3 linked regions of the Homo sapiens genome follow. The protein of the gene in region 2 purifies or fractionates together with the protein of the main gene of each other region. This does not show direct contact. Each region holds a gene or a part of one and is shown on either strand. Other genes may lie near its edges. The genes, in order: EHD2, GPAT4 and CHP1.

Evidence for each region.
Region 1: the proteins of GPAT4 (region 2) and EHD2 purify together in Homo sapiens (affinity purification with mass spectrometry; 2 studies listed by BioGRID and IntAct, with this or other methods). This does not show direct contact.
Region 3: the proteins of GPAT4 (region 2) and CHP1 purify together in Homo sapiens (co-immunoprecipitation; 2 studies listed by BioGRID and IntAct, with this or other methods). This does not show direct contact.

The regions. Positions count from the first base shown.
Region 1 is NC_000019.10:47,729,857-47,737,927, forward strand, and holds part of EHD2 (EH domain-containing protein 2), read left to right. Parts: intron 1-6,512; coding exon 6,513-6,677; intron 6,678-8,071. UniProt on the Homo sapiens protein: ATP- and membrane-binding protein that controls membrane reorganization/tubulation upon ATP hydrolysis. Plays a role in membrane trafficking between the plasma membrane and endosomes. Important for the internalization of GLUT4.
Region 2 is NC_000008.11:41,573,513-41,581,562, forward strand, and holds the start of GPAT4 (glycerol-3-phosphate acyltransferase 4 isoform 1 precursor), read left to right. Parts: upstream 1-4,687; 5' UTR 4,688-4,766; intron 4,767-4,793; exon of another isoform or gene 4,794-4,856; intron 4,857-5,003; exon of another isoform or gene 5,004-5,068; intron 5,069-8,050. UniProt on the Homo sapiens protein: Converts glycerol-3-phosphate to 1-acyl-sn-glycerol-3-phosphate (lysophosphatidic acid or LPA) by incorporating an acyl moiety at the sn-1 position of the glycerol backbone. Active against both saturated and unsaturated long-chain fatty acyl-CoAs.
Region 3 is NC_000015.10:41,276,014-41,283,204, forward strand, and holds the end of CHP1 (calcineurin B homologous protein 1), read left to right. Parts: intron 1-2,753; coding exon 2,754-2,876; intron 2,877-3,322; coding exon 3,323-3,376; 3' UTR 3,377-5,874; downstream 5,875-7,191. UniProt on the Homo sapiens protein: Calcium-binding protein involved in different processes such as regulation of vesicular trafficking, plasma membrane Na(+)/H(+) exchanger and gene transcription. Involved in the constitutive exocytic membrane traffic.

The sequences.
Region 1 (8,071 bases), on a different chromosome or scaffold from region 2:
TCTCTCTCAGTCTCTTTCTTCTCCATTTTTACTTTTTCTTTTATTCTAACTCCCTTTCCTTTTCTTTCTCGCTCTGCCTCCTCCTGTCTCTCCATCTCTCCCCCGCTCCGCCGCCGCCCTCTCTCTGTCTTCCTCCTGGTCTTGCTTAGACTCCCCCAGGTTCGTTCCCGCGGGTCCCTTGGCGGGAGCTGGAGCACAAGGCCCAGGGACAGAGGGGTGGGTCCGGGCCAGACACCTGGTGCCCCCGCCGGGCTGGGGGCGGCTCCGGAAACCCAGACAAACCCCGGAGTCAGGGACCCAGCCCCGGCCCAGCCCGCCCTCTCACCTTATCTCTTCCTGGCACCTTCCCCTGCTTCCTCTCTGGAAAAGCCATCAGCGCCCTCCCGCCTACCCTCCTTTGGTCCCTACGGAGCCGCCCTTCGGCCCTGCCCCCTGGCTCCATTGGCCCGCTCTCACAGGCCCCGCCCCCAGCCCGGCCACACCCCTGCCCTGATTGGTCCTTCAGACCATTAGGCACTCCCTCCCCCTCTTCCTGCAGGTTCATCCATGGCTCCCCAGTGCCGTTCAGGACACAGGAGCATGGGATTTAGGGTCCGCTGTGACCAAGGCTCACTGCCCCTCCTTTGCCCCGTGTCGCACCCCCACCCCTGCTCCTCACATATGAGTCCGCCACACTTGGTCGTCACCAACAATAGCCATACTGTTAACCTCCCCTCATGCTCTCCTCCAAAGATACCAGGCCTTCCTGGACTCTCTGGGAGGAGGCATTCACCCTCCTCCCAGTGCCTCAGTTTCCCATCTGTACGATGGAGGGTGTGGACGAATCCTCTGGCTCTAAGTCCTTTGGCTGAAGTGATAGCTGTTAGAAGGGGAGATTTTATGATGCTGTGATACGTAAGGCCAAGATCTTGGGAGGGTCTGATTCTATAGACGCCAAGATGCCCTGAACCTTCAGACCACATTCTCTGCAGTGGCCCAGTGACATTCATTCAGCAGTTGCCGATCGCATGTGGTACTCCTCTAGGCTCTGGGGATACAGCAGGGAACACAGATAAATTCCTTTTCTCATAGAATTACTTTTTAGTGGGGAAGCAAACATTAAACAAATCAATGGTTATGAAGAAAAATGAAGCGGAGGAAAGAGGGGCTGGCGAGGGACTATTTTAGAGCGCTCTGAAGGAGAGGAAGGGGTAAGAGGAAGGGGTGAGCCGAGTGGCGATCGGGTGGAAGAGCAGTCCATGCAGTGAGAACAGCATGTGCAAAGGCCCTGGGGCAGCCATGCACTTGATGTGTTTGAACTGAGAGCCTAACGGGGCTGGAGACAGGGTGGTGGTGGAAGGTGGAAGAGATGAAGATTTAGAACCAGTCAGGGACCACCAACGTTCTCAGCAGTCTAAATTTGTGATTCTTTAAAAAAAAAAAAATATATATATATATATATATATACATATATATATAATTTTTTTTTTTTTAGATGGAGTCTCTCTCTATCACCCAGGCTGGAGAGCAGTGGCATGATCTCGGCTCACTGCAACCTCTGCCTCCCAGGTTAAAGTGATTCTTGTGCCTCAGCTTTCCGAGTAGCTGGGACTCCAGGCAGGTGCCACCACACCTGGCTAATTTTTGTATTTTTAGTAGAGATGGGTTCTCACCATGTTGGCCAGGCTGGTCTCGAACTCCTGACCTCAGGTGATCCGCTGGCCTCGGCCTCCCGAAGTGTTGGGATTACAGGCATGAGCCACTGTGCCTGGCCTAAAAGAATTTTTTAACTAGTCTTTTTTATTGAACATTTAAGACCATCTCATGGAAAGGCATTCATACTTTATCAGACATGATTCTCCCACACCTCACCCCACCAGCTCCCAGGGCCTCTTTTCTAGAGGCAACCCCCATAAGTAGTTTCTTGTGTGTCTTTCCAGATATACTGCATTTTTTTTTTTTTTTTTTTTGAGACGGAGTCTCGCTCTGTCGCCTAGGCTGGAGTGCAGTGGCATGATCTCGGCTCACTGCAAGCTCCGCCTCCCGGGTTCACGCCATTCTCCTGCCTCAGCCTCCCGAGTAGCTGGGACTACAGGTGCCTGCCACCACGCCTGGCTAATTTTTTGTATTTTTAGTAGAGGCGGGGTTTCACTGTGTTAGCCAGGATGGTCTCGATCTCCTGACCTCATGATCCGCCTGCCTCTGCCTCCCAAAGTGCTGGGATTACAGGCGTGATATACTGTAATCACGCCCGGCCAATATACTGCATTTTGTAAAAGCATTTATTTATTATTATTTTGTTTTGAGACTGAGTCTCACTCTGTCGCCCAGGCTGGTGCAATGGCACGGTCTCAGCTCACTGCAACCTCCACCTCCCAGGTTCAAGTGATTCTCCTGCCTCAGCTTCCCATGTAGCTTGGATTATAGGTGGGCACCATCAGCCCGGCTAATTTTTGTATTTTTAGTAGAGATAGCATTTCACCATGTTGTCCAGGCTGGTCTCTAACTCCTGACCTCAGGTGATCGACCCGCTTCAGCCTCCCAAAGTGCTGGGATTACAGGCGTGAGCCACCGCGCCTGGCCTATTTATTCATTTTTTTAGAGACAAAGGCTCGCTGTGTCGCCCAGACTGGAGTGCAGTGGCGACATCATAGCTCACTTCAGTCTCAAACCTCTGGGCTCAAGTGATCCTCCCTCCTCAGCCCCGGCAATTCACTGGGACTATAGGCGCGCGCCAGTACACCCAACTAGTTTTAAAATTTTTTTTTAGAGACCAAGTCTTGCTATGTTGCCCAGGCTGGTCTCGAACTTCTGGCCTCAAGTGATCCTCCCCCCTTGGCTTCCCAAAGTGCTGGGATTATAGGCATGAGCAATATTTAATTTGTGAGCTTCCTATAAAATATAGACATACCAATATTCATTATTCTGCTCTCCTTGTTTATTTTTCGATAATTTATAAGATTGTGGACCAGGTGTGGTGGCTCACACCTGTAATCCCAGCACTTTGGGGGACCAATGTGGGCGGATCATCTGAGATCAGGAGTTCAAGACCAGCCTGACCAACATGGAGAAATCCCATCTCTACTAAAAATATAAAATTAGCTGGGCATGGTGGTGCATGCCTGTGATCCCAGCTACTCAGGAGGCTGAGGCAGGAGAATCGCTTGAACCCAGGAGGCAGAGGTTGCAGTGAGACAAGATCGCACCACTGCACTCCAGCCTGGGCAACAGAGTGAAACCCCATCTCAAAAAAAAAATAAAAAATAAAAAATAAAAAGATTGTGTTTCAAAGGTTCTCAAGTTCATTGGTTTATTCCACAAATATTTCCTGAGTGTTTTCTGTACAGATTGTACTGGTGCTGGAGATGGAGGGAACAGACAAGTTTCCAGCCCTTCTGGGGCTCCTTTTTTTTTTTTTGAGACAGTGTCTTGCTCTGTCACCCAGGCTGGAGTGCAGTGGTATGATCATGGCTCACTGTAGCCTTGACCTCCCCGGCTTCAGTGATCCTCCCATCTCAGCCTCTTGAGAAGAGAAGATTAATAAATCAAGACATTAGGCCAGGCGCGGTGGTTCATGCCTATAATCTCAGCACTTTGGAAGACTGAGGCGGGCGGATCACAAGGTCAAGAGATCGAGACCATCCTGGCCAACATGGTGGAACCCAGTCTCTACTAAAAATACAAAAATTATCATGGTGGCGGGCGCCTGTAGTCCCAGCTACTTGGGAGGCTGAGGCAGGAGAATGGCGTGAACCCGGGAGGTGGAGCTTGCAGTGAGCCGAGATTGAGCCACTGCACTCCAGCCTGGGCGGCAGAGTGAGACTCTGTCTCAAAAAATAAATAAATAAATAAATAAATAAAGTCATTATTTGCACCACTGCACTCCAGTCTGGGTGACAGAGCAAGACTCTGTCTCAAAAAAAAAAAAAAAAAAAAAAAATCCACTGTCCATTTGGGAGAAAAAAAGAGTGAAGAAAGCAAAAAGCGAATAACGTCTTAGTATTGTTCTTAAAATAATTTTGACCACAGGAACCCCCGAAAGGATCTTGAGGACCCCTGGGTTTCCCTGGACCACACTTCGTGAATTGCTGCTGTAGGGCTTTGTCGGCTTCGGTAGAAATTTTGAACTTCAATAAGCAAATAGAGAGTTATGAGCAGCATCCCCTGGGCTCATGTTCCTTCCTGAAAAATGCCCTCTTGGGCCACTGCTGCATGGAGCAAGGGTTATTGGGGCAGGATGGGGAGCTGGGAGACCTGTCGGGCCACCTTGGGTGTCTCCCCAGGCAAGAGAGGATGACGCTCGAATGGACATGGTGGCCACTGAGGTGGAGAGAAATGAGAAGCAGGGGAGAGGCTGGGCGTAGTAGCGGGTGCCTGTAGTCCCAGCTACTCAGGAGGCTGAGGTGGGAGGATGGATTGAGCTGGGAAGGTGGAGGTTGCACTGAGCCGAGATTGTGCCACTGCACTCCAGCCTGGGGGACAGAGCCAGACCCTGTCTAAAAAAAGCAAAAAAGAAAAGGAAAGTAGGGGAGAGAGGGAGAGACATAGGAGGAGGCAAAAGGGACTCATTGATAGGTTGGATGTGGCTACTTAACAGGAGGAAGAATCAAATATCAAATCAATAATGATTTCAAGAGCTGGGTACCGTGGCTCCCGCCTGTAATCCAGCACTTTGGGAGGCTGAGGCAGGCAGATCATTTGAGGTCAGGAGTTTGAGACCAGCCTGGCCAACATGGTGAAAACCCCTCTCTACTAAAAATACAAAAATTAGTGGTGGCGGGCACCTGTAATCCCAGCTACTCGAGAGGTAGAGGCAGGAGGATTGCTTGAACCCAGGAAGTGGAGGTTGCAGTGAGCCAAGATCATGCCATTGCACTCCACCCTGGGCAACAGAGTGAGACTCCCTTTCAAAAAGAAAAAAAAAGTGATTTCTAGAGCCGGACGGGGTGGCTCCCGCCTGTCATCCCAGCACTTTGGGAGGCCGAGGCGGGTGGATCTCTTGAGGTCAGGGGTTCGAGACCAGTCTGGCCAACATGGTGAAAGCCAGTCTCTACTAAACATACAAAAATTGACCAGGCATGGTGGCACGTGCCTGTAATCCCAGCTACTCGGGAGGCCAGGGCAGGAGGATTGCTTGAACCCGGAGGTGGAGGTTGCAGTGAGACAAGGTTGCGCCACTGTCCTCCAGCCTGGGTGACAGAGTGAGTGAGACTCCGTCTCAAAATAAATAAATAAATAAAAATAAAATTTCTAGATTTCTGGCCTCAACTGGGAAGGCAGGGCTGGGGATGCCCTTTTCAGAGATGGGCACAGCTGAGGGCGACACAGCTCTGAGGGCTAGGCTCAAATTCCACTTAGGGCATCCTGGTATGGAGCTATCCAGGAATGTTGACAGGGCAATTAGCTCTGAGTCCTGAGCTGGAGGGAGAGGCTTAGGCTGGTATGCAGATTCGGGAGTGGACCTCTTGGAGGGGTGTTTAAAACTGGGAGGGACTCAGCTCACTTAGTTAGCAGAGAGGAGGAGCCCAGGGTGAGCCCCAGCAGGAGGAGGCCATGAGGCTCACAGTGTGGCACCTCCGCCTGCAGCACCTGTAACTTGTCAGAAATGCAAATTCCCATCTGGGCAGTGGCTCTTGCCTGTAATCCCAGCTACTTGAGAGGCTGAGGCGGGAGGATCCCTTGAGCCCAGGAATTTGAGGCTGCAGTAAGTTATGATCGCACCACTGCACTCCTGGCTGGGTGATAGAGCGAGACCCTGTCTCCAAAAAAAAAAGAAAAAAAAGCAGGCCAGGCGCGGTGGCTCATGCCTGTAATCCCAGCACTTTGGGAGGCCACGGCGGGTGGATCACCTGAGATTAGGAGTTCAAGACCAGCCTGGCCAACATGGAGAAACCCCGTTTCTATTAAAAATACAAAAAAATTAGCCGGGTGTGGTGGCGCATGCCTGTTAATCCCAACTACTTGGGAGGCTGAGGCAGAAGAATTGCTTGAACCCAGGAGTTGGAGGTTGCAGCGAGCTGATTGCACCACTGCACTCCAGCCTGGGCAACAGAGCGAGACTCTGTCTCGAAAAAAAAAAAGACTGGGCACGGTGGCTCACACCTGTAATCCCAGCACTTTGGGAGGCCAAGGTGGGCAGATCACGAGGTCAGGAGTTTGAGACCAGCCTGACCAGCATGGTGAAACCCCATCTTTACTAAAAATACAAAAATTAGCTGGGCATAGTGGCGCATGCCTGTAATCCCAGCTACTCAGGAGCCTGAGACAGGAGAATTGCTTGAAGCCGGGAGGCGGAGGTTGCAGTGAGCCGAGATTGTGCTACTGCACTCCAGCCTCGGTGACAGAGCGAGACTCCGTCTCAAAGAAAAAAAAAGAGAGAGAGAGAGAGAAAAAGAAATAAAAGAAATACAAATTCTCATGCCCCAGCCCAGACCAAGTAAATCAGAATCTCTGGGAGTGGGGCCTGCAGCCTGTGTTTTAACAAGCTCCCTGGTGGACCCTGATGCAGGCTGAGGTGAGAACCCTTCCCACAGGTTCACGCTTACATCATCAGCTACCTGAAGAAGGAGATGCCCTCTGTGTTTGGGAAGGAGAACAAGAAGAAGCAGCTGATCCTCAAACTGCCCGTCATCTTTGCGAAGATTCAGCTGGAACATCACATCTCCCCTGGGGACTTTCCTGATTGCCAGAAAATGCAGGTGGGAAGCTGCCCAGGAGGGAATGTTGGGGGTGGGTGATGGGAAGGTTGGTTTCTGGAAGCTCTGAGATGGGACCTCAAAAGCCAGAGGGATGGATGGCAGGTTCTGGAAAGCGCCTCCCTCAAATAGTTCCGTGGGAGCATGGTTTTATGAGTCAGGCTAGGGGAGTGAAGAGAAAACCCAAAATAACAGTGGCTAAATTAAGATAGAGAGTTTTTCTTTCTTTCCTCCATAAAAAGTCCCAGAAAGTGATCCAGGACTGGTTTGGTGCTTTACAGAGCCAGGGATCTAGTCCCCTTCTGTCTTATTTCTCTTCCATGCCTGGCCTCCAGGCCCAAGGAACTTCATGGTACAAAAGGGCTGTGAAGGCTCCAGCCATTGTGTCTGCGTTCCAGCCAGCAAGAAGTTGGGAAGGGGGCCAGGCATGGTGGCTCACGCCTGTAATCCCAGCACTTTGGGAGGCCGAGGCGGGCGGATCACGAGGTCAGCAGATCAAGACCATCCTGGCTAACACGGTGAAACCCCGTCTCTACTAAAAATACAAAAAATTAGCTGGGTGTGGTGGTGGGCGCCTGTAGTCCCAGCTACTCGGGAGGCTGAGGCAGGAGAATGGTGTGAACCCGGGAGGCGGAGCTTGCACTGAGCCAAGATAGCGCCACTTTACTCCGGCCTAGGCAAAAAGAGCGAGACTCCGTCTCAAAAAAAAAAAAAAAAAGAAAAGGAAGTTGGGAAGGGGAAGAAAAGAGTAGTCTCTTTAAGAACACTGTTTATTTTATTTTCATTTATTTATTTGAGACTTAAATATTTATATTTGTAAAATATAAATATTTAAAATATACACAGCTGGGTGCAGTGGCTCATGCCTGTAATCCCAGCACTGTGGGAGGCCAAGGCGGGTGGATCACCTGAGGTCAGGAGTTCGAGACCAGCCTGGCCAACATGGTGAAACCCCGTCTGTACTAAAAATACAAAAATTAGCTGGGCATGGTGTTGCGTGCCTGTAGTCCCAGCTACTGGGGAGGCCGAGGCAGGAGAATCCCTTGAACCCGGGAGGCAGAGGTTGCAGTGAGCTGAGATCACACCACTGCAATCCAGCCTGTGTGACCGAGTAAGATTCTGTCTCAATAAATAAATAAATAAAATAAAATATATACGTTTAAAAATTTATTTATATATTTTTTAGAGATTTATTTATATATTTTTCAGAGACTCTGTTGTCCAGGCTGGAGTGCAATGGGGTGATCATAGCTCACTGTGTACTTGAACTCCTGGGCTCAAAGGTCCTTCTGCCTAGCCTCTAGAGTAGCTGGGACTACAGGCACATGCCACCATGCCTGGCTAGCTTTTTTTTTTTTTTTTTTTTTTGAGACAGAGTCTCACTCTGTCACCCAGAC
Region 2 (8,050 bases):
GATCCTCCCACCTCAGACTCCCAAGTAGCTGAGACTACAGGCTCCTGCCACCATGGCTGGCTAATTTTTTTTTTTTTTTTTTTAGAGAGAGGGTTTCACCATATTGCTCAGGCTGGTCTTGAACTCCTGGGTTCAAGCGATCTGCCTGCCTCGGCTTCCCAAAGTGTTGGAATTACAGGCATAAGCCACGATGCCCGGCCTGACTCTCAAATTTATATCACTAGCTGAAGCTCTCCTCCCAACTCCAGACTTAAAAAAATTGAGAGTAGAATTACCATACGATTGGGCAATCCCACTTCAGGGTAGATACACAAAATAATTGAAAGCAGGATCAATCCCAAATGTCCGTCAACGACAAATAGATAAAGAAAATGTGGTATACAAATACAATGGGGCCAGGCGCAGTGGCTCATGCCTGTAATTCCGGCACTTTGGGAGGCTGAAGTGGGTGGATAACTTGAGGTCAGGAGTTCGAGACCAGCCTGACCAACATGGTGAAACTCCATCTCTACTAAAAATAAAATTAAAAAAAAAAATTAGCCAGGCATGGTGGCGCATGCCTGTAATCCCAGCTATTTGGGAGGCTGAGGCAGGAGAATCTCTTGAACCCAGGAGGCGGAGGTTGCAGTGAGCCAAGATCATGCCATTGCACTCAAGCCTGGGAAACAAGAGCAAAAACTCCGTCTCAAAATAAACATACATACATACAATGGAATATTAGCCCTAAAAAAAAGGGAACTCTGACACATGCTACAACATGGATGAATCTGGAGGACACTGTGCTAAGTGAAATAAGCCAGTCACAAAAAGACAAAATCCGACTATTTATATGAGGCAGACTACTTGAACTCCCATTAGCAGAACGTAGAATGGTAGAATGGTTGTTACTGGGGGTAGAGAGAAGAGAAATGAAATTTTTTTTTAATGGGCATAGAATGTCAATTTTTTTTTTTTTTTTTTTTTTTTAGAGATTGGGTTCCCCCATGTTTCCCAGGCTTGGTCTCAAACTCCTGGGCTCGAGCAATCCACTTGCCTCAGCCTCCCAAATAACTGGAATTACAGGCATTAGATACCATCCCCAGCCTTGATGGAAATTTCTGAAGATTCATAATAATGAAAATATATTTAACACCACTGAACTGTACACTTAGAAATGATTAAGATGGGCCAGGCCCAGTGGGTCATGTCAGTAATCCCAGCACTTTGGGAGGCCAAGGTGGGTAGATCACCTAAGGTCAGGAGTTCAAGAGCAGCCTGGTCAATATGGTGAAAACCCATCTCTACTAAAAATGCAAAAATTATCTGGGCATGATGGCGCGCACCTGTAGTCCCAGCTACCTGGGAGGCTGAGGCAGAAGAATCACTTGAACTGGGAGGCAGTGGTTGCAGTGAGGCGAGATCTCACCACTGCAGTCCAACCTGGGCCACAGAGTGAGACTCCGTCCCCTCTCCCCTCCACCAAAAAAATTAGCCAGATGTGGTGGTGCATGCCTGTAATCCTGGCTACTCGGGAGACTGAGGTGAGAGGATCGCTTGGACCTGGAGGCGGAGGTTGCAGTGAGCTGAGATTGTGCCACTGTACTCCAGCCTGGGCAAGAGAGTGAGACTCCATCTCAAAAAAAAAAAAAAAAGAACTGATTAAGATGGTATAATAAATTTTAGGTTCTACGTATTCTACCACAATTGAAAACATTTTTTAAAAATAATATTTATTTTACTTTCTTTGGCTTTTTATTTTGGTGCTTGGAAATGAGCATTGATGTTGCTGGTTGTGCAGTCGACAGTTAGGGATTCACCTCTTAATGAATGGCAAACTCTTTGTAGATGTTAAAGTTGACTTTGGAAGGAAGATAAGTTGTACGGCACAGGCATGGTACTCTCCTGGGGAAAGGGGTTCTTCCCAGGCTCACAGCACTGTGCACCATGTACAGAGCACACATTTTGGGGAAATGCCCTCATACTATGAATGAATTCAAAGTTAGTATGGGGTAGGATCTAAATCTTGTGATCTCTTTCTTCTAAAGGACTACCCTTCATCAGGTTTTAAAAATTACTCCTATAATTTCTGCAGTATGAGTTTTTTCATTCTAGAATGTGAAAATACTGCCAACAATAATCTAAAGACAGCCCATATTCACAGCGACAAGAAGTTCAGTGTTGGCTATAGCTCGGTCATGCTATGGGCAGGAGGCCTTCTCTAAAGATAAGTCTGCTTTGTGTCAAGCATTTCAAGCATGACTTGCTTGTTTCATCTGCCCATTTACATTCCTTGTACCTAGAAATGAATGTGATAAAAGTTTTGGTGCCTACAGGAACTATATTTACCTAGTTCATGTTGGCTTCCCACTCAGAGGGAAGTTTGATTGCCTTCCTGCACTTGAGAAGTTTAGAGAATGTGCCAGTGAATGTGCACACTCACAAGGTGTGTGTGTGTATCAGTGTTAATACCCAACAATTGAGCCTACTATTTGCTTGGGCAAAGAACACCATTTTCTCTTGAGCCTCTAATATGTGTGAAATATTTTAAGATTTCAATATTATGTACAAAGAACTAGTAGATGGTAAGAATTGTGAGAAAATATAACCATGAGAACACAAAGAGAGTACAGCAGATGAGTGGGCTACTTCCAAGACTGGTTCTGGGGGCAGAAAAGGAGACCAGACGAAGGACTCCAAAGAGCAGTTGAGATCCTGGTGGCCACTTTAAATCCCTATCCCTAGCACTGTGGAGAACACAACACAAAAATGTATGATGTCTGGTTTCTTCTTCTTTTTTTTTTTTTTTTCTGAGATGGAGTCTCCCTCTGTCGCCCAGGCTGGAGTGTAGTGGTGCGATCTCAACTCACTGCAACCTCCGCCTCCTGGGTTCAAGCAAGTCTCCTGCCTCAGCCTCCCGAATAGCTGGGATTACAGGTGCGCACCACCACGCCCGGCTAATTTTTGTATTTTTAGTAGAGACGGAGAGACGGGGTTTCACCATGTTGGTCAGGCTGGTCTCGAATGCCTGACCTCGTGATTCCCCCGCCTCAGCCTCCCAAAGTGCTGGGATTACAGGGGTGAGCCACCGCGCCCGGTGGTTTCTTCTCTTATGGAATTTAATGTCGTTGACGATTAGACGTGGCCATGCATTACTCAATCTTGAATTGGGATCCCCAAAAAAGCTGGGCGAGTAACAAGGGCTCAATGAATGGATAAGTGATTGAGTTAATAAATACGTGATCAGTTCCAAATGGGTAACATTTAGTTATATTTGGTGGAGATAAGTAGTCCAGTGTTTTGGAGCTAAGTGGTTATTCTTTTTTTTTTTTTTTTTTTTGAGTTTGGGTCTCGCTCTGTCACACAGGCTGGAGTATAGTGCCACAATCTCAGTTCACTGCAACATCTGCCTCCTGGGTTCATGCAATTCTCCTGTCTCAGCCTCCCGAGTAGCTGGGATTACAGGTGCGTGCCATCACCCCCGGCTAAATTTTGTATTTTTAGTAGAGACGGGGTTTCACCATGTTGGCCAGGCTGGTCTCAAACTCCTGGCCTTAAGTGATCTGTCCGCCTCTGCCTCCCAAAGTGCTGGGATTACAGGCGTGAGCTACCCGCGCCCCGCTCCCCCCACCATTTTTTTTTAATTTTCAAAATTTTTGTAGAAGTGGGGGTCTCGTTACGTTGCCCCGGCTAGTCTCAAACTCCTGGCCTCAAGCGATCCTCCTGCTTTGGCCTCCCAAAACGCTGGGATTACTGGCGTGAACTACCATACTCTGCCCTTTATTCTTACAGAGATTTTGAGGTCTAAGAATGTGGACTTTAAAGATTTCATTATCAGATTATGCATTTAGCACGGAATGACAATCTGACAGCCGTGTACAGCGTAAACCGGCGGAGAGGGCTTGGCACTAAAGGCAAACTGTCTTTTAAGAACAGGAAAAAGAAAGGTAATATATATTTTAAGGAGGTCCCATTTTAGGGGAGATAATAAGCTTGGGTTAGGCGTCCGAAGTCAGAAGATATAGTAAGAAACACACACGCAAACTCCAGCAGCCACCAGCTAGACTTGAGTAGAGAGAGCAGGTCCAAGTGGAGGTGGAAGTTGGAAAGTTGCATCTGCCAGGCAGGGCGAAAGTGGCCTACACCCACTCCTGGAGCACCCTGCTTGACGAGCAAGGTAGACGAGGCTGAGGGATACTGCTGGTGATGACGGTGGTCGTGGTGATGGTGCTGGTAGCTAACAGATCTTGAGCGTACCAGGCCCTGAGCTGAGTCCTCTAACGGGCAGAATGTCGCTGCATACGGACAGCAGCCTCAAGAGGACAAGGTGATTTAGTGACTCTAGCCTCTTCCCGCGGTGCCAGCCTGATTTCACCCTCTCCGGAACACACAAGCGAACCTCCGGGGAGGGAGCCAGTATCGGGTCCTAACGCAGGGAAGCGCTCCGCTTTCTGAGAGGGACGCGCCAGCGGAGGGACAGCCAGGGCCCGGCCTCTCCTGCTCCTGCCCCGCCCCGCCCCCGGCAGTGCCCCCTAGTCCGCCAGAGGGCGACTCCGCGGGTCGCCCAACCCGCGACCGGTCCACGCGGCACCCGCCTCTCCCTAGGCCCCCGCCCTGCCGGCCCGCGCGCGCCCGACGGGAGCGTGCGGGGCGGTGGGCGCAGGGTCACGTTGGGCGGCGCAGACAAAGGCGGGCGCGCGCACGTCCTGACGCAGCTTGGGCCCGCGGCGGCGGCAAGGGCGGGAGGGAGCGGTCGCCGCGGGATTTGGAGCTGCCTAGCCTCGCGGTCGGTGAGTAGGAGGGAGCTGGCCCCTTACCTCAAAGTCTCCGACCTCCGGGGAGCCGAGAGCGGGACGTGGGAGCCGGGCTTGGGCGGCCGCGCGGGGCCTGCGGTCTGGGACGCCCCGGCGACGCTGCGCCGGCGTCAGGAGGCACCATCGCCGCGCCCCGGGGATCCCCGGCGGGTGGAGCGGGTGCCCCCCGTCCGGGATGGAACGGTCCGCGCCCGCCCCGAACCCCGGCCGCCCGCCTCTCCGCTCGCCTGCTCTCCGAGCCCGGCTCCTCGGAGCCCCTCGCCTCCCCCAAGTCCCAGGTGTGCGCAGCCCTCCCGCCCCGGGAGTCCGGGGATGTGGGTGGCGAGGGCTGCTGGGCGTTGGAGCACCAGGAAGCGCCTTCCCCTGTCATTCCCCTTCCTGTGTTCTCTGGCTGCCGTAAGATGCATGTCTTTACCCTCTCCTTCTCCAAATGCATGCTCCCATTTTTCTTTAGGATTTCTTAACTCCTGAAATCCCTTGCCTTTCCTTTTTTATTTCAGCACCCTCTGAGGCATCCTTCTCCCAGTGGGGCTTGTTTATTTCCTCGCTTTCCATGTCACAGAGGGCTGAAGTTTAGCTGTTCAGAAGTTGCAGAAAATAGCTTATAGGAGACATACGGTGTAGCACGATGGAAATAAGTTCCATCCTCTGCCAAGTATTACCATGGATCTTCTCATGGATAACCTTGAGGTCATTTGAGGAATTTTGTTTTTGGTTCATTTTCCTTAATTTTGGCTGAACTTTGAGGAGCTCTCCTTAGTTTCATGTCTTGTAGATTCTATCTCAATCCAAGGGAAATGGTGTGAAGAGCAGTTATACCATACCAAAGTCTCCAGACAAAATCCTGTAATAATGCCAATCAAATATACTTCTCTCTTTGAAAGAGATGTGCTTTTCTTTTCTTTTTTAACTTTGTATTTTGGAGAATTTCAGACACAGGGAAATAGATGGAATAGGGAACCAGCATGTACTTGTTCTGGCCTCCTCAGCCACTTAACTGTGGCTATTCCTGTGCCATACACACCCCACCCATTTCCCCTCCCGTATGTCTCAGGGAGAACTTGATGCAAGATGAGTCTGTCAAAAGTAGCTTCAGTTCCATAATGAAAACCACCATACCAAGTCATAAGGTGCTTTTTGTTTTGGAACACAGCCTACTCATGAGGTCTTCAGCTAAGAAACACAGTAGAGTTGAAGAAAGAGCACAGCAAAAGGTATCTTAACATGATAGAACAGGTTAAAAGAAAAAGTATGGCCGGGCGTGGTGACTCACGCCGGTAATCCCAGCACTTTGGGAGGCCGAGGCGGGCGGATCACCTAAAGTCAGGAGTTCAAGACCAGCCTGGCCAACATGGTGAAACCCTGCATATACTAAAAATACAAAAATTAGCCGGACGTGGTGGCAAGTACTTGTATTCCCAGCTACTCGGGAGGCTGAGGCCGGAGAATCGCTTGAACCCAGGAGGCAGAGGTTGCAGTGAGCCAAGATTGCGCCGCTGCACTCCAGCCTGGGCGACAGAGCGAGACTCGTGTCAAAAAAAAAAAGAAAAGAAAAAAAGTGTTTCAGATCTGGATGAGAACATTCGGAACGTCCTGTTCAATGTTTTCATTTTTTTCTGAGCCCTTGGAGGTCCAGAGAAGTTCAGTGACTTGTCCAGAGCTGCAGGTCTTAAGAGGCTGAAATCTCGCCTCTGCCTCGAGGCTGCGGTTCCACTGACCCATACTACTTGCCTTCAGGAAAGAGAAATGGTGTAGGAAGGCTGTGGATGAAGACGCTTACATTCATGAAGGATTTGGATAGGCGAACATGAGCTTTTCCACCAAATTTCAGAATTTTAAGAAATGCCTTAAATTATTTCTTAAAAATCAATTTGGGGCAGACGAGAAGTTCTGATAATAGTTTTTAGGGAACATGATAAAATTCTGACCTTAGAAGTGGTATACCAGTTTGAGAAGAAGAACAAGCTATAAACGGTGTAGATAACATTCACGGCTATTTAAGAAAGAGTTACTAAGGGAAACCAGAATGACTTAAGAGTGTTACTCTTCTTTTTCTGAGAGAACAATAGCATCATCTCAGAAAGCCTTTCATGCCATTAATAGGTAAGAATCTGGGCTTCTTGGACCATGGGTTAGACTTTCTTACAAAACCATAATATGCATTTCCTAGCAAAATTTATGCTATTACATTTCCTTATCTCAACAAAGACTGGTAAATTCAGTACTTATTCCTCAATTTTCCTACCCTTAAAATGGGGATATTCTGCCTCTCCAAGGAATGCTGGGAACAAGCAAGTCCTCATGTTAGGGGTCTTTGAGTTTTCATGGAAGTTTAGGTTATTTATATGATGACATAGTTGTCAACTTACTTTCAGGATGGACTTTTCTTTTGTGAGTTTGTGACCTAAATACAATAGTTGTTATGCATGTCCAGTTTATGGAAGTACCACTGCAATAACAGCATTTGAGTGTCATGGTAAATCATTACCCCTAAAGATAGAGGAGGGAGGAGGAGGCAACTGTTGTGTGTCTATTTTGTGTTTGGTGTGAGGAGTGTTGTGGCTAGGCTCTTCAGAGGCTAGCCTAACTTGCTAAGTGGTTTCTGCTAAAGAAAAACCCACTTTTCTTGTGTGTGCTTGTCACCACAAGTTAGCTTTTATTAAAAACAAAACAAAACTCTCTAAGCTATCTGGAGATGATTTGGCCCTGGTTAAACATGAACTGTACTGCAGAATTGTTTGTTTGGGTAAAGTAGAACCTCATTATGACGTGTCTTTTACTTCCTACTGTGTCATTGTGCTCATGGAGAGAACTTGACGGAATATCATCCGTTCCATGTATCACTAAACCATGTAATAGCGTACACTATGATTAAGGCTTTTTAAGAGAATAGAATTTTAGAGTTAGAAGGAGTCTTCCAAGTGCTTAGAGTTTCCCCTGAGTCCTTTAATGTACTTTTTCACCTTTAAAACACATGCAGACACGTACACATGCCACACAAACACAGAGTCTCATCTAGGGCTCTCTTCATTTTGCCTTGTACAATCTTAGTATGTTTGGATCCCACCTCCAGTTAATTTGTAAACCGAAGATCTGCAATAATAGAAAAATGCTTTGTAAAACAGGAGCGTAATACATTTGCACTTGACTTTTATTTATTTATTTTATAGAGATGGTCTTGATCTGTGGCTCAGGCTGGAGTGCAGTGGCATGATCAAGGCTCACTGCACCCTCAGCCTCCCTGGCTCAAACGGTCCTCC
Region 3 (7,191 bases), on a different chromosome or scaffold from region 2:
GCGGATCACCTGAGGTCGGGAGTTCGAGACCAGCCTGACCAACATGGCAAAATCCCGTCTCTACTAAAAATACAAAAATTAGCCAGGCATGCTGTTGGGCACCTGTAATCCCAGCTACTCGAGAGGCTGAGGCAGGAGAATCGCCTGAACCTGGGAGGTAGAGGTTGCAGTAAGCCAAGATCGTGCCATTGCATTCCAGCCTGGGCAACAGAGTGAGACTCCATCTCAAAAAAAAAAAAAAGAATCTATTTCATGAGATTGTAGAAGGGAGTAAAGGAGTGGAGGAAAGGAAGTCTATGAGCCACTGGGCTAGAGGCCCTTTCCTTTCTGTGGAAAAGCTCAGTTCTTGCCATCTGAAGACAGAGGTGGCTGACTGCAATAATAATATAAGGAGTCAGAAAGGTACCCTGTCTCCCATTTCATATTGCCTAAGAACCAGCCTTTCCATATTGCCTGACAGTCAAATTGTTAAAGTTGCTTATTTTGTTTAAGGAAGCAATTTTCAAAGTATGTTCACACCCTAAAGGTGTTAATAGAATTCCCAGGGGCCCAAGGATTGGTTAAGTTTAAGACAGATTTGGTGAAACAGTGTTAAATTCTCTTACTCAATTCTCGCAGCCTTTTAATTGTGCTTGTTATTTTTCTCAGAAGGGGATTTAGCATTTAACTCTTCAAGGATTTTTATGTTTTCTTGGGCCATACTTTAGGAATAGTTGGCTTAATGCAGCACTTCGAAGAGGACGACATTTTGGGTGGGATTTCAGAAAGCCCCACCAAACTGATTTAAATCAATAAGGAACTAGTTAGGCTCACGCAACAAGAATGTTTGGCATAGATTGTCCAGGCTGGTACAGTACCTAACTGATGTCCAGGAACCAGGCTTATTCTGTGTTCCTGCCCTGGCATCCATAGCTCATATTACTCACCTCATGGCTCCAGGGTGGCTGCAGTGCCACCAGACAGAATGAGGTAAGAAGAATGAGGAAGGGCAAAATGCAAAGGACTCTCCCTTAGTCTTTGTCTTCTTATCCAGTCACCTAGATAAGTTCTGCTTACATCATTGCCTAGATGAGAAGATAAAGGTTTCAGCCTTTTAGCTGTTACTTAGTCACATGATGGTAAAGATGGGGATACATTCTGAGATATGCAATGTTAGGCAATTTTGTAGTTGTAGGAACATCATAGAATGTACCTACATGAACCTAGATGGTATAGCCTACTACACACCTAGGCTATGTGGTGTGGCCTATTGTTCCTAGACTACAAACCCGTGCAGCAAGTTACTGTTCTGACTACTATATGCAGTTGTAACATAATGGTAAGTATTTGTGTATCTAAACATATCTGTGGCTGGGCATGGTGGCTCACGCCTATAATCTCGGCACTTTGGGAGGTGGCAGAGGGAGAATTGCTTGAGCCCAGGAGTTGAAGGCCTGCCTGGGCAACACAGTGAGACCTCATTCCTACAAAAAAATTTTGAAAAATTAGCCAAGTGGCTGGGCGCAGTGGCTCACACTTGTAATCTCAGCACTTTGGGAGGCGGAGGCGGGCAGATCATGAGGTCAGGAGTTCGAGACCAGCCTGGCCAACATGGCGAAACCCCATCTCTACTAAAAATACAAAAATTAGCTGGGTGTGGTGTCACATCCCTGTAATCCCAGCTACTCGGGAGGCCGAGGCAGGGGAATCGCTTGAACTGGGGAGGCAGAGGTTGCAGTGAGCCGAGATCGTGCCATTGCACTCCAGCCTGGGCAACAAGAGTGAAACTCCGCCTCAGGAAAAAAAAAAAAAAAAGGCATGGTTGCACACACCTGTAGTGTAGTACCAGTTCCTTGGGGGAGGCTGAGGTGAGAGGATCACTTGAGCTTCGGAGGTGAGGCTGCAGTGAGCCACATTCGCAACCCAGCACTCCAGCTTGGGCAACAGAGCGAGACCCTGTCTCAAAAAAAAAACCCAAAAACAAATACTTACATCTAAACATGGAAAAGGTACAGTAAAAATATGGTATTGTAATCTTTTTTAACAAATTTTTTGGCCGGGCGCAGTGGCTCATGCCTGTAATCCCAGCACTTTGGGAGGCCGAGGTGAGCGGATCACGAGGTCAGGAGATCGAGACCATCCTGTCTAACATGCTGAAACCCCATCTCTACTAAAAATACAAAAAATTAGCCTAGCCGGGCACGGTGGCAGGCGCCTGTAATCCTAGCTACGCAGGAGGCTGAGGCAGGAGAACGGCGTGAACCCGGGAGGCAGAGCTTGCAGTGAGCTGAGATCGTGCCACTGCCCTCCAGCCTGGGCAACAGAGTGAGACTCCGTCTCAAAAAAAAAAAAAAAAAAGGAAAAAAAATTTAACTTTTAGGTTCAGGGCTACATATGCAGGTTAGTTATGTAGGTAAACTCTTGTCATGGGGGTTTGATGTACAGATTATTTCGCCACCCATGTACTAAGCCTAGTACCCAGTAGTTATTTTTTCTGTTTCTCTCTCACCTCCTACTCCACCCTCTGGTAGGCCCCAGTGTCTGTGGTTCCCCTTTTTGTGTCTATGTGTTCTCATCAAAATACAGTATTATAATCTTATAGCACCACCATTATATATGCAGTCGGTCATTAACCAAAACATTATTATGCAGTGCATGACTGTATTTGAGGGCATCAAAGGAAAAGGAGGATGGTGATAGCTTTATTTTTAATCTTAGTAAAGAGTCCCTCTGATTCCCAAGGCCCTTGTAATTCCTGGCTCTTGGTCTTCCAGGTGCTACGCATGATGGTCGGAGTAAATATCTCAGATGAGCAGCTGGGCAGCATCGCAGACAGGACCATTCAGGAGGCTGATCAGGATGGGGACAGTGCCATATCTTTCACAGAATTTGTTAAGGTTGGTCACTTACTTCTTGTTTGAAAAAGTTACGTTTTAGTGGCTGGGCGCGGTGGCTTACGCCTGTAATCCCAGCACTTTAGGAGGCCAAGGTGGGCGGATCACGAGGTCAGGAGTTCAAGACCAGCCTGGCTAACATGGTGAAACCTCATCTGTACTAAAAATACAAAAATTAGCCAGGCGTGGTGGCGCGTGCCTGTAATCCCAGCTACTTGGGAGGCTGAGGCAGGAGAATCGCTTGAACCCAGGAGGCCAAGGTTGCAGTGAGCCGAGACCACACCACTGCACTCCAGCCTGGCAACAGAGTGAGACTCTGCCTCCAAAAAAAAAAAAAAAAGTTACGTTTTACTGCACAGGAGGAAGGGGGGAAAACATTACTCAGATAAGAGCTTGGGAGTGTTGTAATCTTCATAACCTTTGTAACTGTTACTGGTTTTCTCCCCCAGGTTTTGGAGAAGGTGGATGTAGAACAGAAAATGAGCATCCGATTTCTTCACTAAAGGAGACCAAACTGTTCCTTGCGGTCTAGTATTTAAGAACTGGAACTTGAAAGTCCTCCTTCTACCAACTCCACCTCCACCCCCTCATTCCCCTTCTCCCAAAGTACTACTGCTGTTGCATGACAACCCCAAATATGTTCTGTCAACACAAACCTGCCTTTGGTGTATAAACAGGGCATTACAGAATGGTACACCCTATATATTTCTGTTCAGTATCCATTCACTAGTTCTTCATTTATAAATATCATCTTCCCCATTCTGCTGCTGAATGCCACACATCCATCCAGTCTGAGAAAGTGAGAGAGGCAATCATGCCAAGAACAAGCCAGCAAAGCTCTTTCACCAGATGTAGACTGTAGCCCTGCTGCCTTCCCTCCAGCGAGTCTGCCAGCATGCTTCTTCATCCTTTTTATATGTTCTTTGCTTCCTACTTCCCTGTCTTCCAACATACTGTTCACTTACTCTGGCAGTCTTTCTGCTTTTCATTAAGCCTCAAAATCTCCTCTGTTCTACTTGGCACCACAAGCTATGTCCTATATATGTATTTCTGACTTGGCAGGATAGTTCAGGGGTCTGGCAGTTTTTATTTACCTTCATTATTAAATGGGCCTCTGGGATGTTGCCTCTTCAGGAGCTTTTTGGTAATCAATACTTCTCTCAGAAGTATGAGACCATCCTCTGCACTCTGCTCTGTCATCAAAGGCTGCTGGGTGGAGATACCCTTTTTGAAAGGTGGCCTTGGTGAGAGGTATGGAGCCAAGTCTTCTAGGTTGCTTGCCCACATCACTCTATCTCTGGCCTCTGATTCTCAACTTTGTACCTGTGTGGCTCCTCTTGTTAGTGCAATGTTGACTGTTGAAAAAGCAGCAGTATGCTTACAGGTTTGCTTAGTTTGGGGACACCGTTACCACCAGAATGGCTGCTCTGACAATATGCCTAGGGACTTTCTCATGGCTTTTATTTAATAAGGAGGCTGGGCACCCTATAAAGCCTCATGCATTCACACCTTTGCAGCATGGTTTATGCCTCAGTGTTATGTGCACTGGAATGTTTTCCACTTCACATTTCCAAGTAGAAATATTAGTGTTACGGAAGTGCCTAATATCCCAGTCCAAATTTTTTTTTTTTTTTTTTTTTTTTTTTGAGACAGAGTCTTGCTCTGTCACCCAGGCTGGAGTGCAGTGGTGCGATCGCTCACTGCAACCTCAGCCTCCTGGATTTAAGTGATTCTCCTGCCTCAGCCTCCCAAGTAGCTGGGATTACAGGTGTGCACCACCATGCCCGGCTAATTTTTTGTATTTTTAGTGGAGACAGGGTTTCACCATGTTGGCCAGGCTGGTCTCGAACTCCTGACCTCGTGATCCGCCTGCCTCAGCCTCCCAAAGTGCTGGGATTACAGGTGTGAGCCACCACGCCTGGCCCCAGTCCAAAATATTTAAAGATTGTTTCCTTAGTGTCTTGAAGTTTTGCACAAAATTCTTTTTTTTGAGATGGAGTCTCACTCTGTCACCCAGGCTGGAGTGCAGTGGCGTGATCTTGGCTCACTGCAACCTCTGCCTCCTGGGTTCAAGCAATTCTCCCACCTCAGCCTCCCAAGTAGCTGGGATTACAGACGTGTGCCACCATACCTGGGTAATTTTTGCATTTTTAGTGGAGAGGGAGTTTCACCATGTTGGCCAGGTTGGTCTTGAACTCCTGACCTCAGGTGATCCTCCTGCCTCGGCCTCCCAAAGTGCTGGGATTACAGGCATGAGCCACCGTGCTCAGCCGCAAAATTCTTTATGAATTTTACACTTGGCAAATGTTAATGACGGAAGCCATAGTCTGCTCCTAATACATGTCCAAAGCATTGACTGTTGTGTCATTAGCTGCCTGGTTACATTAGCTCCCTGGCTTCTTGTTTAGACCACTGCTAATCCCTTAAAAACAAGAGGTCTGGCACTAGTAGCACAACCTAAGGTGGCATTACAGATCTTTGAGCGAGCCACAGCAACTTTTCTGCCAAGTCAGCTTAGTTTAGACTTCAGTGAATCAGGCTATTGCTATCCTAATGTATGTCTCTATGAGTGTATTTAGCCACACATCTGCCCTTGGTTGACTTTCTGACTCATTGCTTGCTTGCTTGTTTCCTTGCTTTGGAAAACTATTGAAGATTGCTAAAAAATACCACTGCAAAGTGATGGAAAAGGGTGGAGAACAGGGGAGTAGCCAGGCTGGATGGCTCAAATATAAATGAATGAGGAATTCTTTATGAAGTATCAGTCAGATTTTATGATTAAGTGATGTAATATAGGAATTATGTAAAAGGGAAGAATGTCTGATACTGATCTATTAGAGAGGTACTTTAGAGGCTTCTTGATTGGCATAAAGTTCCTAAGGTTATAGATTTTCCCCCCTTTTGGCTGTATAGCAAAGTGTTTTAATCCACGGTTGTGCCTTATTGTTCCATTAAAATTGTATCTTCGATCCATCAATAAATACTTGTGGTTGAAACAAAATAACTTTTGTCCATTTTACAAGAATTTTATGTAACTTAGTCCCTTCAAGTTTGAAATCACAGTGTCTCCCTTACTCAAGTTTATGTCTGTACGGTCAGCTGCAGTCTACTCTGCTGCTGCCTGGATATATGAAGTGGAAACATTCATCGAGGGGCCAGCACTTTTGGCTTCGACATGGTTTTGTCAGCCGTGGCCACTTCCCATTCATTCCAGCTAAGACGCAATTTCTATTCTTGACTCCCTGACTCCTTAAATGTAGAAAAAGCCTAAAAATCCAGTATATGTCCATTCCTTAAATTGCCCACCTCCTCATTCATGTGCAGCCTCAGCGGTGACATACTCTGGTTTTACATGGCTTTTTCTTTGCATTTCTTTTTTGAGATGGAGTCTCACTCTTGCCCAGGCTGGAGTGTAATGGCACAGTCTTGGCTCACTGCAACCTCCGCCTCCCAGGTTCAAGCAATTCTCCTGCCTCAGCCTCCTGAGTAGCTGGGATTACAGGCACGTGCCACCACACCTGGCTAATTTTTGTATTTTTGGTAGAGATTGGGGTTTCACCATGTTGGCCAGGCTGGTCTTGAACTCCTGACCTCAGCTGATCCACCCGCCTCAGCCTCCCAAAGTGCTGGGATTACAGCCACCGTGCCAGGCCAGGAATCTGCATTTCTAAGAATCCACCCAGATGACAGCCCTCTTGGTGTTTGGCAAGCACAGTGGACCTACACTGCCTACGCTGGGCCTCGCTTGTCATAACCCCGAAGAGGAGCCACCCCACGTATACCCTCCCTGCTGTCACGTGTCCGTGTGAAGAGACCACCAAACAGGCTTTGTGTGAACAACAAGCCTGTTTATTTCACCTGGGTGCAGGTGGGATGAGTCGGAAAAGAGAGTTCAGCAAAGGGTGGTGGATTATCATTAGTTCTTACAGGTTTTGGGATAGGCGGTGGAGTTAGGAGCAATGTTTTGTGGGCAGGGGGTGGATCTCACAAAGTACATTCTCAAGGGTGGGGAGAATTACAAAGAACCTTCTTAAGGGTGGGGAGATTACAAAGTACATTGATCAGTTAGGGTGGGGCAGAAACAAATCACAATGGTGAATGTCATCAGTTAAGGCTATTTTCACTTCTTTGTGGATCTTCAGTTGCTTCAGGCCATCTGGATGTATACGTGCAGGTCACAGGGGATATGATGGCTTAGCTTGGGCTCAGAGGCCTGACACCTGCCCCTCTGGGAAATGATGCAGAAGAAAGGATGCCCTACAGTTGGGTGTAGCAAACAACAAAACTGCCAGTTACAGCAGGTTTCCTCTATGCAGGA